4 linked regions of the Homo sapiens genome follow. The protein of the gene in region 2 purifies or fractionates together with the protein of the main gene of each other region. This does not show direct contact. Each region holds a gene or a part of one and is shown on either strand. Other genes may lie near its edges.

Region 1 (4,261 bases), on a different chromosome or scaffold from region 2:
CACAATGTTGGCCAGGCTGGTCTCAAACTCCTGAGCTCAAGTGATCTGCCCACCTCGGCCTCCCACAGTGCCGGGATTACAAGCATGAACCACTGTGCCCAGCCCAAATTACTTATTTCTTCTTATTTGTACTACGCTGCTTCTCAAGCACCTTTAAGAATTATTTATTTCATCCCCTCTGTACTGCGTTTTCCAATTTTCTTATCTTTCAGAGTTTTTGCTCTACATTCCTCAGTGTTATCTTCTACTAATAGTTTTTTCACTTCTTTCTTATTTCTATTAACTTTTAAAAATCCCCTACCCCTTTTATTGCACCCTGTTGTGGCTTCATCTTCTCTTATTTTTCTGGGGCTATTATGAGAATTTTTAAAAGTGTTCTCCCTGCAGCATCTGCTTCCTCCATATTCCTTTGTCTGTTGTTTGGGTCCCTTCTTTCTACATTATTGGATTTTTTTGGTTGCTGTCCATGATTAAAAGTAAAAATTAAAAAGTACAAAGAGAGGAAGCTCCAAGTAGATAGCTGGTGCTTTTAACTTTGAATTTCACTGTAGGGTGATCTGGGTGTATGATTTGTCCAGAAAACCCGATGTCAGTATCTTTGCTCAGCCTCTTAGGTTAATCAGATAGCGAGGGGTTTCAGTTTTCAGTAGGCATAAAGCCACTTATTCTCCGTTTTAGGTGGAATACCCACTCAGCAGAGAATTTATCCCCTTCAGGGAATTCAGCCGGGGTGGGAGCCCGTGGTGGGAAAGAGGGGCAGCTGCCCAGAGACATGAAGCTGGAAAAAGGATCTAGCGATCAGAGTCCTTGAGCAGCCTTTGACTAATCTCCCCCTTTTCCGATTTACCTCTCATACTCATACTTGTGCTCTCCAGCTTCCAACATTTTGTTGCTGTTATCTCTTTGTCCTTGTGTTTAGGTTGTTAAACTTGATTTTTAACAGGAGAGTAGGCAAAATTAGATGCTTGAATTCAAACCACGATCTTAACTAAGACCTGATATCCGTAAGTAAAAATTTTTGGTATTCCAGCTTTCTTTTGAGTAGCAAAAGAAAAACAAAGTCTTTTGGCCACTCCAACCATGTTACTCAGTAGGCCCTTCCAAAGACACCCACTTCTCCATTTTGGGGATCCCCTTGTACCTTCAGACTCCACAAGGAGTACACGACCAGCCACGACAAAACGAGATGCAGACTATTGGGAGGACTATAAACGGTAGGGGTGATACCCATTTGAGTCCACGAACGGCCCTCTCGGCGCCGCAGACACTGGCTGTCCCCCGAGACGCTCCAGCAGCCACTTAACTTCACCCACCTGTAGCGCCCGGGGACGCTCGAAGCCCGACCTCCCACGCCCGCCCCGGAGCCCCGCCCCTCCCGCCCCTCCCCGCCCTTCCCGACTCTCCCCGCCCCTTCCTGCCCCGACGCGCAGCAGGCCCCGCCCACCCAGGCGGTAGGAACCCACTCCGGCCCGCTAGACCTGCTGCTATGTCCCGGCCGCAGCTTCGACGCTGGCGCCTCGTCTCTAGCCCGCCGAGCGGCGTCCCGGGTCTAGCGCTGCTGGCGCTGCTGGCGCTGCTGGCGCTGCGGCTCGCGGCCGGGACCGACTGCCCATGCCCGGAGCCTGAGCTCTGCCGCCCGATTCGCCACCATCCAGATTTCGAGGTCAGCGCCTTCCTCTGCTCCTCTAGGTCTGGGCTTCAGGGCACGAAGAGAAGTTAGGGTAGAACGGAGCCCTAAGGAGAGGTGCCGTGGGCGCCGAAACCAGCTTTGACCACTCGATGAGGGCCTTCCTGTTTACGGATCCTTCAATTTATAGATGAGGAAGCTCGGGCTCAGAGAAGTTGAGTAACTCCTCAGGCCTCACAGCCTGTAAGTGCCTGCGTAGGCAGGCGAGAGTTCAAACCAGATCTGCCTCCTAAGGCAAGCTCCTTTCATTCCCCTGCTGTGCCTCTGCGGAAGCACTCTGGGTGTAAAAAGCAAACAAGGTAGGATAATCCATTTATGTTTCCAAGGAACGAGGATTTCGTTTGAAAGAATCTCAGCACTCCAACAGTACATTAGAATGCAGAGTATTTTGCTTACCTTTAGTTTTCTATACCTGCTAGCCCTTTCCTTTAAAGTACCTCAAAACCACCCATGAAGAGTGGTAAAAAAAATAGCTTTCAGTACATTTTCCTTCTATCTACATAACAATTTGTAAGGCTTCTGGCAACTTTAATCAAACACCTTCTGGAGCAATATTAAAACCACCTGACTGCCCACTTCGATGACTGAAAGCAGGAATTGGATGACATCAGGAAGGTCCAAAGGCTTAATTCAAAGAACGATTCTTTTGTAGAAATAGGCATGATTCCTAGTTCTTAATCTAGTACATTAATCTGAGGCAGAACACTTAGATGCCAGTAAAAAAGTATATATACATGACTTAGGAGAAGAAATAAAAATGGTGAAAGTGTTTATGGAGAACCTGCCTAGTGTGGAAACCTAACATCTTATTAAAAGAAAGACTTCAGACAAAGTAGGATAACCTTTTTTATTTGAGCAAAGAACAACTTATGAATCGGCAGTACTTAAACCAGAAGGGGTTCAGAGAGGTCTGCTTTAGTAGCATGGGCTTTTATAGGCCGAACAGGGAAGCAAAGGAAAATAATTACTTGGTTGGCTATGACTGTTTGCCTTATTTAGCTATGACTTGGTGGAAAATTACTAGTTAGAGGTTAGTTGGCAGTTTCTGATAGGTTAAGCTTAAGTTTCCTTTCACTGTTGACCTTGGGCTGGAGTTTGCTTAAGCAGGAAATCCAAGGCAGTTGGAGCTGTTTCAGCATAATGGCCTCCCAATTAAAATGTTTTATACAATCTGAGGCCCAGCGCGGTGGTAGAGGCAGTGGGGACAGTAGCTGTAAAAGTTCAACCAGACATTTCTTAATTTTCTCAATCTCTTTTTGAGATTGAGAAGCACTTTGTGAGGCCAAGGTGGGTGGATCACTTGAGGTCAGGAATTCGAGAACAGCCTGGCCAACATGGTGAAACCCCGTCTCTACTAAAAATACAAAAATTAGCTGGGCGTGGTGGCGGGCACATGTAATCCGAACTACTTGGGAGGCTGAGGCAGGAGAACCGCTTGAACCTGGGAGGCGGAGCGGGAGGCGGAAGGTTGCAGTTAGCCAAGATCACGCCACTGCACTCCAGCCTGGGCGACAGAGCAAGACTATGTCTCAAAAAAGAGAAAAAAAAAAAACCTGAAAGATTTACTGTAGTACCCAATACTTAGTGGGTTAGGCAATATCTGTGGGCACTTTGAAAACCAACTATTCAAAGAAGCAAAATTATGCTTATTTGTATCTTCATGGTAAATGGTCTTTTTCTCTACTGGCGTTTTCTATGTTTTTCAAACACAAAAACTAGACTACATGGCATTTTCCCCTTATATTTTCAATTAGTTCACCCAGCTTTTTTTTTTTTTAAGGATATCTGTTATATCACAGGCTCTTAGTATTTTTTAAACAAATAGAATCTTAATTATCAGAACTAAAATAGAAGTTTTGATAGAAATATGAGTCAGAAAACAATGGGCCACTTAATTTCACATTATGAATTTTTATTATTTCAGTAGGCAATTGCTTAGCAGAAAAAATGAGTTATGCATAATTAATTCTGAAAAGTTAAAAAAAATTAAAAAAAATTAAGAAATGCCTGGTTTAACTTTTACAGCTGCTATCCCCACTGTCTCTCCCTCATTCATTCCCCTCACAAGGACCCAGTGATCTCTTTTGTAATGCATATCCCCTGAATTAAAACTCTAATTGATTCCCACTGATCCCAAGATAAAATACAACATCTTCAGTGGTCTTGGAAGTCCTACTTAATCTTTCCACTACCGACTTTAAAGGTTTTATCCAGTTCCACATACTTGCAGGATTTCTGTGCTCTACCTACATTGACCTTTTTCAGTTCCAGAATCTCAGAATTCTCCTGAGGTGTAGCGACCTTTGGGCTTTCCCTTCCCTCAGTTGAGAATGCAATCTTTTGTCCATAGGTATATCTCTTCCATCATTCTGCTGATTTCAGCCCACTCCGAAAGTGTGTAGTCCTCAGAAAAGTTTTCGTGCACCATCTGGCTAGCAGGTCCCCTTTATATGCTGGCGTGGCCCCCTGTAACCCCTACAGTCCTTAATACCATTGTAATTAAGTAGTTAACTCCTTACTGGACCTGGTCTCTCTCATTAATCTTTATCTCCTTAGAGCCTAGCAAAATACTCT
Region 2 (3,500 bases):
CTGTTGTCACACCTGGTTTTCTGACTCTCCTGCCTCTCTCTCTGTTTTTTTTTTTTTTGACACAGAGTCTCGCTCTGTTGACAGGCTGGAGTGTGGTGGTGCAATCTTGGCTCACTGCAACCTCTAACTCCCTGGTTCAAGAGATTCTCCTGCCTCAGCCTCCTGAGTAGCTGGGATTACAGCTGAGTAGCTGGGATTACACCACACCCAGCTAATTTTTTTTTTTTTTGTAGTAGAGACGTGGTTTCACCATGTTGGCCAGCATGGTCTCAATCTCCTGACCTCATGATCCTTGTGATCCACCCGCCTCGGCATCCCACCACCTCTCTTTTATAAGGGCCCTTGTGATGACATTGGGTCCATCTGGGGAATCCCGGATCATCTTCCCATCTCAAGATCCTTAGCTTTATGACATCTGCAAAGTCTTCCACACTCCTTTTTTTGAGACAGGGTCTGGCTCTGTCACCCAGGCTGGATCATAGCTCACTGCAGCCTCAAAACCCTGGGTGCAAGTGATCCTCCTGCCTCAGCCTCTTGAGTAGACAGGACTACAGGCATGTGCCACCATGCTAGTTTTCTTTCTTTTTTTTTTTAAGATTGTTTGTAGATAGGGGTCTCACTGTGTTACCTAGGCTGATCTCGACCTCCTGGGCTCAACCAGTCCTCCCACCTCAGCCTCTCGAATAGCTAGGACTGCAGGCATGTGCCACCATGCTGGCTGTTTTTTTTTAATTTTAAGATTTTTTGTAGATACGAGGTCTCACTATGTTGCCCAGGCTGATCTCAAACTCCTGGGCTTGAGTGATCCTCCTGCGTCAGCTTCCTGAAGTGCTGGGATGACAATTATGAGTTACCATGACTGGCCCGCAAAATCCACTGTGCCATGCAACCTAGCATATTCGTGGACTCTAGGAATTAGGACGTGGACAGATTTGTGTTGGGTGGGTATTATTCTACCCACCAAGCGTCTATGAACGACACTAACATTCTGTAGCAGCAACAGTGATCACCATCCCTTCCACTGTGCGGATGAGGACTGAGACCCAGGAAACTCAGTACTTTGTTGGGGTCACAAAGGTAGTAAGAGGCAAAGCATGGAAACCCAGGTGGTTGGGCTCCAGGGCAGGCTCTTTCTGGCATTATAACCTTCTGCCTGTCTGGATCTTAGCATCTAAGCCAAAAATTATTCATTTGAATCTTGAGGAGAAGGGTCAAAATGAAAGCTTGAGGTTAATGAACCAATTAAGGTGTAGGAATTGGGGTTTTGGGCCAGGCAGGAATATAAGCATGACACTGCAGGTAGTCAAGGGTTTAGAGGAGGTGGCAAAATTTGTCTCTCCCCCATCTCCATAAATAGTAATTAAAACATCTCGCTTGGGCCGGGCGCAGTGGCTCATGCCTGTAATCCCAGCACTTTGGGAGGCCCAGGTAAGCAGATCACTTGGGGTCAGGAGTTCAAAACCAACCTGGCCAACACGGTGAAACCGTGTCTCTACTAAAAAGACAAAAAAATAGCTGAGCGTGATGGCTCGTGCCTGTAATCCCAGTGACTCAGGAGGCCGAGGCAAGAGAATTGCTTGAACCGGGGAGGCGGAGGTTGCAGTGAGCTAAGATCGTGCCACTGCACTCCAGCTTGGGGTGCAGAGCAAGACTTCATCTCAAAAACAAACAAAAATTCTGGCTTGTATGCTGTCTTCATAAATAGTAATGAAAATATCTGGCTTGTATGCCCCCTCTGACATTTACACAGTGCTTTCCAGCATCTGCTGCATGTATAAGATCCCAAGGTGGAGTTTATTCTCCCTCATTTGATGATTGGAAAAACTATCCCCATATTTTCCTGTGGTTTGACTCCATAGCCACAGCAACCCTTTTTCCGACCAGCCAAGAAACAGCAGCGGTGGCAGGATGCTGGTCCCAACCACCCCGGGGCTCAGGACAGAGGGTTCTCCAAGCATCTGAACCTGCCAGTGCCCAAAGCATAACTTGGTCCTCACCTGGATGTTCCAGACGAGACATGGGTGTCTGGCTATTAGGGCTTGTTTTACAGTTGAATAATTATTTTGAATGGCCCCTAAAATATTTTCTATGAATATCCATAACTTGGTCTGTGCAGAGTCATAAACCTTCCAGACCATCAGTTGCTACCAATTCTTCGAATTTGCACAGAACTCTTTATTGCACAAAGAAGCAAGCCATGCAAATAGCTGGGGTCAAGGGATCATCCCAGGCAAAGAGAAGAGCGAGTGCAAAGGCCTTGAGGTGGCTTCTGCAGGAAACAACTAAAAGGCAGATCGAGGGAGGGGAAGGAAGATAAGAAATGAGTTTGAGGGAAGGCACAGTATGGACTAGGGATTGTATTCTAAAGGTGATGGAGGATTTTGAATGAATAAATGCCACCCCTGCTCTTTTTTTTTTTTTTTTTGATGGAGTCTTGCTCTGTCACCCAGGCTGGAGTGCAGTGGCACGATCTCGGCTCACTGCAACCTCCGCCTCCTGGGTTCAAGTGATTCTCCTTCCTCAGCCTCCTGAGTAGCTGGGACTACAGGCACCTGCTACCACGCCCAGCTAATTTTTTTTTTTTTTGTATTTTTAGTAGAGATGGAGTTTCACCATGTTGGCCAGGCTGGTCTCGAACACCTGACCTCAGACGATCTGCCCACCTCATCCTCCCAAAGTGCTGGAATTATAGGCATGAGCTACCGTGTCCGGCCCACTCCTCCTCACTTTAACCCCTCCCGTGGCTTCTGGTTGCTTCTATTCTATTCTATTCTATTCTATTCTATTCTATTCTATTCTATTCTATTCTATTCTATTCTATTCTATTCTTTTGAGACAGTCTTCCTCTGTTGCCCAGGCTGGAGTGCAGTGGTATGATCTCGGCTCACAGCAACCTCTGCCTCCTGGGTTCAAGCGATTTTCCTGGCTCAGCCTCCCGAGTAGCTGGAATTACAGGCACGCACCATCATGTGGAGGGAATTTTTGTACTTTTAGTAGAGATGAGGTTTTACCATGTTGACCAGGCTGGTCATGAACTCCTGACCTCAGATGATCTGCCCGCCTCGGCCTCCCAAGGTGCTGGGATTACAGGCATGAGCCACCACACCTGGCCTTCTGGTTGCATTTAGAATCTGAGGGAGGCTCTACAGGGTCCGGTCCCATCCATCTCACCATGCATCTCTGTGGCCTTGCTCCTCCTCACTTGTTGTAGAGACGAGGTGTCACTGTGTGGCCCAGGCTGGTCTCAAACTCCTAAGCTTAAGCCATCCTCCTGCTCAGCCTCCCAAAACACTGGGATTATAGGCATGAGCCACTGTGCCCAGCCTGGGCCTTAGCCATGCGGGTCCCACTTGCTCCTTGAGCACATCTAGCTTTTTCCATCTCAGGCAGTTTCCACGTCGGCTTCTCCTGCCTGGATGTATCCCCCACCCCCATACCTCCAGCTCCTCTCACGTCTCCCTCCTCCATCTGTTCCTCCAGGTGTCAGCTTACCTGTCATT
Region 3 (4,188 bases), on a different chromosome or scaffold from region 2:
TTTCTTCACCTCTTAGGTGAAGACAATTCCAACCTGATTTAAATGATAAGGGGTAGGTGGGTGCAGCAGCGGGAAGCTCATGCTTGTGTGGTATTAAGCTTCTGTCCAAGGATATAGAAAAGGTGGATATCCTGGAAGGATGTTGAGCTACAATTTTATGATAAAGGTATTGCTTAACCCATTTTCCAGGGGATGAAGTTGTAGTTAAAAAAGACCTATGCCTGAAGCTTGGCAAAGAATGAATTCCTGGAATTGCCTCTCTCCCTTCTCTATCCCATTCTCTATCCCACCCACCCACTTACCTATAATCCTCATATTTCCCACGAATGCCTGAACTTGAACTACAGTTGCCTGTTCATTGGATTATTTTACAAATCAGGAAGTCACATTTTAAAACCTGGGACCCCGGTCATTTACCTACCTTCACCCCAAGGTTCTAAATCCACTAGGATACAAGGACTTTTTTATTACCAAACAAATCAGACAAAAAATGTAAAAAATCAGACTTTAAATGTTTTATTTTGTTGATTCTGTACACCGTCAGGAAACAAGGTTAGAAGTAAAATAAAGTGCCAGTTAAATTCGGCTACTACCAACAACCAAAACCTTAAACATAGAAAATCAAAGTAAACTGCGGAAAGGTCATAGCATAACCTTGGGTAAAGGAATTTGTTAACGTCTGTAACAAATCGAAACTGACTACGTATGTAGCTCTTCAACTGCAAGACGGCGAGAAGGAAGACCTGCGGGCCGCGCTGGTCAAGGGCCCGGCCCGCTGAGGAACAGCGGAAAGCGCCTTCCCGCCGTCGCCACCGCAGCTGGGATCCGCCGAGCAGCGGGCGGTTCAGGGCTCCCGGTACTCCTGCGTGTTAATGAGAACGTTCATTAGCGCTCTTGACAGGACGGCGACTGTGAGACGCCTGGTTACCTATTTTAGTAAATCGGGAACACTGGATGCAAGGCGGTTGGTTTTCGTTTTTAAGCAAGCTTAAATGTTGGTTACGCTACTTTTGGGGAAAGGGAAACGAAAGGTGAATCTCGAGTTCTAAGTTGCTTTCTAAGAAACCCCCAGGATTTAAGAGCGAAAACTCTCTGCGACAAAACACTGGATACGCGAGTCTTAAATACAGCTCTCCAAACAGCTGGTCTACAAAAGTGGACCCACGTCCCAACCCAGCGCACCCTGCGTTGTCCTCGCCCCTACCCACCGCACCCCGACGCCGACCACCTGTCCGCCGAGGGTCCGTCCGTCTGCCACGTCCCAGACCGTCTGCACCGCCTAACTGGTCTTTTTCTGCCTCTTGAGTTCCGGCAGCCTCCTTTGATAGGACCTGGCCGGCGGGAACAAGGGCGCCCGTGGCCTCTGGCGGAGGAGAAGGAAAAGAACCACCCCTCCGCCCCCGCCACTGCTCGAGCGCAGCCCCTAGTACTGGGAGCCGGCGTGCTCCGCTCCGGGGAGGTAGCGCTCGGGGATGGCCTCTCGCTGCACCCGGGGCGCGCCAACCACGGCAAGGCGCCCTAAGTTCTACATCGGCCCCGCGAAGCGCGCAACTCCAGGGACAAGGAGAGAGATGTGCTGGGTGAGAGCGAGCACTTTCTGCCTAAAGCCGCTGGAACCGACCCAGAACCCCAAACTGCCCCGAGGCGCCATCGAACATCCGCTCTGGTCACTTTAACGTCCCAGGGGTGGGGGCGGGGAAGGGGGTGCCCGACAGTCCCTTCCTCTGGACTGGAAGGTTCGAAATGCTTTCCTTGCTCGGCCTCGCTCTCCCAGACGCAGGGAGCAGGGGCGCGGAGAAGCTGAGCGAAGGGAGGCCGGGCCGAGGTCGCGCCCCAGGCCCAGGCCCGCCCTCACTTGGAGAATTGCGCCTGCACGGCGGCCAGGCCCAGGCTGGCCGGGACCAGGTGCGGGAACTTGCACACGGCGCAGGTGCAGAGGCCGGGGCCGCCTGCGCCGCCGCCGGGGAGAGCGAACTGGCCGCACGGCGGCTCGTCCAGCGCCAGCGACAGGTACTTGGCGGGGCGCAGCGCGTCGGGGGGTCCTACGGCGCCGGGCGCCAGCAGCACGGAGCCGGGCGCGGCGGCGAGCAGGGGCAGCCCGGCCAGCAGCAGGCGCGGCGCGGCGGGCCCGGCGCCCTCGCCCAGCGCGCGGCGCAGCTCCTGCAGCGAGCTGCCCAGCAGTAGGATGTAGTTGCGGGCGAGCAGCAGCGTGGCTATCTTGGAGAGCTTGCGGCCGGGCGCGCCCTGGCAGTGCGCCGCTGAGTAGGGCAGGATGACCTCGCGCAGGGCGTCCATGGCCAGGTTCAGGTCCTGCATGCGCTTCCGCTCGCGGCTGTTGATCTTGCGCCGCAGCTGCTGCTGCTGCTCCTCCTTGGCGTCCGGCCGGGCGCTGCCGCCCGGGTGCGCGCCTGACCCGGGCCCGGGGCCTGGAGGCTCGGCCGGCGCCTCCGGCTTCTCGCGCGCAGCCTTGGGGAGGAGGGGGGCCGTCGTGGAGGAGGAGGAAGTGGAGGAGGTGGAGGAGGTGGAGGAGGAGGAGGAGGAGGGCGGCTGCCTGTAGCCCACCAGCTCGTAGAGGGAGGCCCCGAGCTGCAAGTCTCCGGGCCGCTGTGGCCGCAGCATGGTCCCGGGGACCGCGTTCACGCGCGCCTGGGAAACCGCATAGTACATCTGGGAGGCGGTGGGGGCGGCCGAGGACGCCCTTCAGGAACGCCCTGGGGTGGGCCGGTCGGCAGGCCGCCCCTCCCCGCGGACCTGCGCGCGGGGAAACGATGGTGGGGCCCTGGCCCGCGCCCTACCCCTTTAAACCCGGCTTGGGAACCTGCGGGGCAGCGGGTGGCGGGGCGCAGCCAATGGAGGCGCGAGGCCGGGCGCAGCCGCGTGTTCATTGGCTGCTTGTGCCGGGGCCGCGCGGAGGTGCGGCTGGCACCGCTTTAGGAGGTTATTGTGAGCGCCTGTGCCAGCCGCGCGGGACAGGCCCCCTGAGCGGAGTAAGGGCGCCTTTTCAAGGCAAGCGGGGCTGTTGAAGGAGGACTGGTCGCACTGGTCAGGCTGCAACTCACGTGCCTTCCTCCAGCAACTGTCTACTCAAAAACAACCTCCCTCATATTTTTTTTTAACTGTGATCACATATTCATAACATAAAATTTACCGTCTTATGTTTAGAGTACTGTTCAGTAATGTTATATGCATTAGTGTGCACATTAAATTGATTTAAATTAAATTCACATTGTTGTGCAACCCATCTCCAGAACTCTTTTCAACTTGCAACCCTGAAGCTCCACCCATTAAACAACTCCCCACTCCCCCCGACCCAAGTTCCTGGAATTCACTCTTCTGTTCTGTCTCTATGAATTTGTTCTACTCTAGGTCCCTCATATAAGTAGAATCATACAGCACTTGTCTTTTAGTGACTGGCTTCTTTCACTTAGCATATTGTCGTCAAGGTTTATCCATGTTGTAGCATGTATCAAAGTTTCTTCCTTTTCAAGGCTGAATAATATTCCAGTATATGGATATACCACATTTGGTTTATCCATTCATTCGTTGATGGACATTTGGGGTGCTTTTGGTTGTTGCGAATTATGCTGCTATGAACATGAGTGTATCATGTTTTTTTTTTCTTAAAATACATAATTTCCTGCCAGGTTCAGGTCGCTAAATTTCTGGACTAAATGACAAGTAGCATTAGGATATTTCCTCCCTGCTGCTCCCAACCTCCTTCCCCATCCCTCTGATTGAAAGGTCTTTAGGGACAAAGGAGCCTTTGGGTCGGGTTTCTATCCTCCCCGAAAGGGATGGTCTATCAGCAACTTGACATTTGCTTAAGCAAAAGTCACTCAGAAATTGGCCTCTTATTAGAAACAAAACAAAACACCCACATAGTCCTATCGGTTGAGGGTGGGAATGAATCATTTTATTTGCCAAATAGAATAGCATTACTTGGTGTCTATGGACATTTTCTGCCCCCAGCACCAGTGCATGCTACTATAACTTGTCAATGTCCTGGGGAAGAGGGCATCTTGGTGGCTGTGCTTGCTGGTTTCAGGGCTGCTTTGTTCTGGTTTTCTTCCACCAATATTTGCCACATGGGTTCACTCTGATCTTTGCTTCTGACCCCCAGCTCTGCCTGTAGCATCCTGCCTATGCCTCAGGTTCAGCTCCAACCTTGCTTTCTTCTGGAAGCCTTGG
Region 4 (4,104 bases), on a different chromosome or scaffold from region 2:
CTTCCGTCCCTGCAGACTCACAATTTTCAAAGCCCTCTCCCCGCCTCCTCTGGTAGTCACAACCCAGTTATTCAGACTTGCACAGGTCGTTCGCAAGTCCTCCTGGAAGGTATCTTGGCTGGAAAAGGGGACAAGGCCAAGCTTCCCCACCGCTGGATGCTGCGCTCGGCTCTGGAACTGACACCAGGCGTCTCGGGCAGGGCCACTGACCCGCAGCACACAGAAGCCAGCTTTGCCATCGCAGCGGGGACCGCCGGGCGGGCCAGCTCCGCCCTCTCCTGCCTGGGGGGCCCTCGGCACCCTCTGGCTCCCCTTCTCTGGCCTGAGTCTCTAGGGCCTCCCCAGTCCGGGCGGGGGTCTCCGCTGTCCCCCCCACTGGGTCAGGCACGTGGTGGCCGCGGTGACCACCTGGGGAAGGCGCCGACTCCGAGGAACACACTCGAGCAGGACGCTCCGCAGGTGATTCTGCCCCGCGGGCACGGGGTGGGGGCGGGATTTGGCCAAATCTGCAGAGAGTTTAGGTTGTCAAAGCTGGGGCGGGGGTTGCTACTGATACCCAGAGTGCGGGGGCCAGGGTGCTGCCAACATCCCACCATGCGCAGGACGTCCCCACCCCAAGAACCACCCGGCCCCGCGTATCCGGAGCGAGGAGTGGGCAGCGCTCGGCAGAGGCCCCGGCGCGGCGGCTGCACGTCCTCCGGGAGGAGGGAGGGAAGCCGGGCTCACCGCCGGGCCTCCCCCCCGGTCAGGAGGGAGCCGGGAACTCCCGAGGCACCAACTCTGCGGAACGCGGGGCGCCCGGATCGCCCCTGATCACCGCCCGCTGGCGAGGCGCGGGGGACCCAGAACCGGCGGGGCCGGGAGCCTCCTTTACCGCTCCGCGCCGGGGCTGCCCGCAGGATGGGGCGCAGGATGGGGCGCAGGATGCGGCCCCGGCACCGCCTCGCGGGGGTCTGCGGGGGGCGACCGCGGCTCGCGTCGGCCACTACTTGGGGGTCTCGGGTTTCCGCCCCGCCCTCGCCTTGCAACCCCTCCGGCCCCGGACTCCGCTTTCCAGGCCGGGCTCTTCCCTCCGGACCCCGCTCGCCGCCCGGCGCGGCCCCCTCCTCCTGCAGCGCCCCCCGCCCCGGCGCCCGCGCCCCCGATTCGCTGCTGACTCGGTGTCTGCGCGTCCGGCCGGGCGCCCCGGGAGGAGTTTCCGGCGCGGGGCGGGGTCGGGGGCGGGGTCGGGGGCGGGGCGGGGCGGCGGGTGGGCCCCACCCCCCAGCTGAGCCCGGCCGGGCGGACTCGGACTCGCCAACTTCAGAGGCTCGGCGGCGGCGGCGGGCGCGGAGCTCTGCGCGCGGCTCCAGCGGGCCGGGATGGGCGGGCGGCCGCGCGGAGGACGCGGGGGGCGCGCGACGTGACCACCCGGACTCGAAGCCCGCCCCGCCCCCGCCCGGCTCGCCGGCTCCGGGGTCTGCTCCGGGGGTCGCGGACGCGGGGCCGGGCGGCGGAGCCGGCGCCAGAGCATGCGGGGCGCGGCGCGGGCGGCCTGGGGGCGCGCGGGGCAGCCGTGGCCGCGACCCCCCGCCCCGGGCCCGCCCCCGCCGCCGCTCCCGCTGCTGCTCCTGCTCCTGGCCGGGCTGCTGGGCGGCGCGGGCGCGCAGTACTCCAGCGACCGGTGCAGCTGGAAGGGGAGGTGAGTGTGCGCGGCGCGACCCCGGCCCGGCCCCCTCCCCTCGCGTCCCCTCCCGTCCCGGGCCGGCCGAGCGTGCGGGGGCGCGGCCGGGGGCGGGCGCGGGGCAGGGGCTCCGGGGGCCGCTCTCCAGGCCCAGTCCGGTGCCCGCTGTCCCCCGCCCCCGGTTCTAGAACAAAAGAGCCCGCGGCGTCCCGGTTCCCGGCCCGGAGGACGCCCGGGGGAGGCGCGCCTGCAGCGCGGCCGGGTGGGTCCCGGCTCCGCGCGTGTCCGAGCCTCGGGGGCCGCCGGTCCCGCGACCCCATCCCGGGGGCAGGCGGGGGTCGGTCCTCGGGCCCTTCCTGGCAGGCTCCGGGAGTTGCGCGCCCCGAGGCCGCCCCGGGCCAGAGCGGGAAGGGACGGCCGCGGGAGGGAGCGGCGGTTTCGGGGATCGGGCGCGGACCGCAGCGGGGGCCACTTCCGTCTCGGGGAGCCGCGGGCGGGCACCTGTGAGCCGGGCCGAGTGTGGCTCCGGCCGGGCCCCCCGCCCCTGCCCCGTGAAGGTCAGGCCGCCCTTGGCCGCGGCGCGCGCTGCGCTGGGCGACCCCCCCCCCCCCCACCCGCGGTGGCGGCCGAGGACTTTTTTTTTTTTTTTTTTTTTTTGACTCAAGCGTGGCCGCCGAGAGCGGCGCCGACCGCGACTGCCCCTCGGGAGCCGCCGCCGCTCCCACGCGAAGCCCAGGGCGCCGAGGGCACCGCGGCCGAACCCGCCCTGCGCGAGCCTCGCAGTCGCCAGTTCCGGGGTTCGCAGATGCGCGGGGACCCGAGTGACGCGCGCCTCCCGGAGAGCCGTGGCCGGGCTGGCCCGGGCCTGGGTCCCGCTTCCCCTCGGCGCGGCCCCCGCCCCCGCCCCCGCCCCCGCCGCGGGCCGAGTCACGCGGTGATGTCGAGCGAAGCTGTTTTCCGAGAAGGTCGGGGCAGAGCCGGTGCGGGGCGGGTGGTGTCCGCGGGGCGGGCGCAGGTCTCCCCGCAGCCGCAGCCTCCGTTCCGGGTCCCCGCGAAGCCACAGTCGCCCCCCAGCGCCCCCGGCGGAGCCTCCCCGGGGGAAGGGGCGTGGCGCTGGGGGGCAGAGTCGCCCCGAGGGCCGTGGGCGGTGCCCGGCTGTCCCGGGAGCGGCCGCCTCCCTTCTCGGCCGAGCGGGGCCGCGGGCGGATGGAGGTCTGGGGGGGGTCGGCCGGGAACGCCGGCGCCGGGAGCCTCCGAGGCCGACGGCTCTTCTGGGGCCGCCCCTGCCCCCGCGGAGTGATTCAGCCCCGGCTCGCTGCCTCTGCCCGGCGGGTCGGTGCATCCCCGAACCGAGGCCCGGGGCGTTCCGCTCCAGCAGACCGAAGCCAGAAACGCCGCCCCCGCCACCCAGGCCGAGTGTGTCGAGAAGGGGCCGGCGCCCTTTTCAGGGTGTCAGGGGACTGTGTGCCCGGTAGGAGGGGGCGCCTCCCGGAGCCCGAAGGGAGGGCGCGGTAGGCAGCCGAGGGTGGCGGGGAGGCCACCCCTCCACCTCCAGGGGCGGGCGGCTCCTCCAGGCAGGTGACAGCAGCGGGACAGGAGTGCTTTGCCCTCCAGGACCTGCGCACCCTCCTGTCTACCTGGAGGCCCTCTTCGCCATCGTTGCCAGTCCTGGCCTCAGACTCCCCAGAGGGGACCCCCCCACACACACACACAGGGGACCCCCCCCAACACACACACACCTGCAGAGCCTGGCAGAGGGCAGCTGTGGGGGCTGCTGGAGCTGCGGGTGTGATCTGGAGGGGACACGGGGCCCGGCTGTGTTTCTGGGGCGTAAGTGAGACTTCCTTTTGTTGTGGTCACTGCCCCGTTGATCCACACACGTCACGAATCAGTGACAGAGACTCGCTGTGGAAACCGGAGTGCGCTGGCCTGCCTGCTACCCTCCGGTGTTTGTGACTTTTTACCAGCTGTCCTGACGAAGCACAGGGTGGAGCGAGCGCTGGTGTGCTGGGTGGATTCTCATCCCCCGATAGCTGGAAAGTTGCCCCTCATGACACTGGCCACTGCATCGACGGCCTCTGTTGCTGGGTGTTTCTTCTAAGCAGTTAAGTAGGAGATGATGAAACCTCCCTTCCGTGGGGGGAGGCGGGACCAGCGCCCCGTCTTTATCAGCCAGTGCTCATAAATGTGGACCATGAACTTTCCCACTTGCTGTCAGCCCGGGCATCGCAGGTGCGGTCACACCTGGTTCGTCTCTCCTGCAAGGTGGGGAAAGGAAAGTTAACCTGCCAGTGGGTTCGAAGCCCTTCCTGACTTTCATACAGGAGCCGGGCATTTTGTCCTGGTGACCCAGAGTTGTGGTGTGTGGGCTGGTGCCTCAACAACCCTCCAGTGCACCTGCGCCCCCCTTCAGTGAGTCCCTTTATCCACTTGGGATTTGC

What was found. Proteins that work in one complex are often made in the same cells at the same time.
Region 1: the proteins of ELSPBP1 (region 2) and CTBS purify together in Homo sapiens (affinity purification with mass spectrometry; one large-scale study listed by BioGRID and IntAct). This does not show direct contact.
Region 3: the proteins of ELSPBP1 (region 2) and OLIG1 purify together in Homo sapiens (affinity purification with western blotting, with the first as the bait; one study listed by BioGRID). This does not show direct contact.
Region 4: the proteins of ELSPBP1 (region 2) and METRNL purify together in Homo sapiens (affinity purification with mass spectrometry; one large-scale study listed by BioGRID and IntAct). This does not show direct contact.

Annotation. Positions count from the first base shown.
Region 1 is NC_000001.11:84,571,641-84,575,901, reverse strand, and holds the start of CTBS (di-N-acetylchitobiase precursor), read left to right. Parts: upstream 1-1,461; 5' UTR 1,462-1,486; coding exon 1,487-1,663; intron 1,664-4,261. UniProt on the Homo sapiens protein: Involved in the degradation of asparagine-linked glycoproteins. Hydrolyze of N-acetyl-beta-D-glucosamine (1-4)N-acetylglucosamine chitobiose core from the reducing end of the bond, it requires prior cleavage by glycosylasparaginase.
Region 2 is NC_000019.10:48,001,132-48,004,631, forward strand, and holds part of ELSPBP1 (epididymal sperm-binding protein 1 precursor), read left to right. Parts: intron 1-3,500.
Region 3 is NC_000021.9:33,068,726-33,072,913, reverse strand, and holds OLIG1 (oligodendrocyte transcription factor 1), read right to left. Parts: upstream 2,774-4,188; 5' UTR 2,668-2,773; coding exon 1,852-2,667; 3' UTR 501-1,851; downstream 1-500. UniProt on the Homo sapiens protein: Promotes formation and maturation of oligodendrocytes, especially within the brain. Cooperates with OLIG2 to establish the pMN domain of the embryonic neural tube.
Region 4 is NC_000017.11:83,078,305-83,082,408, forward strand, and holds the start of METRNL (meteorin-like protein isoform 1 precursor), read left to right. Parts: upstream 1-1,304; 5' UTR 1,305-1,511; coding exon 1,512-1,681; intron 1,682-2,841; exon of another isoform or gene 2,842-3,134; intron 3,135-3,630; exon of another isoform or gene 3,631-3,767; intron 3,768-4,104. UniProt on the Homo sapiens protein: Hormone induced following exercise or cold exposure that promotes energy expenditure. Induced either in the skeletal muscle after exercise or in adipose tissue following cold exposure and is present in the circulation.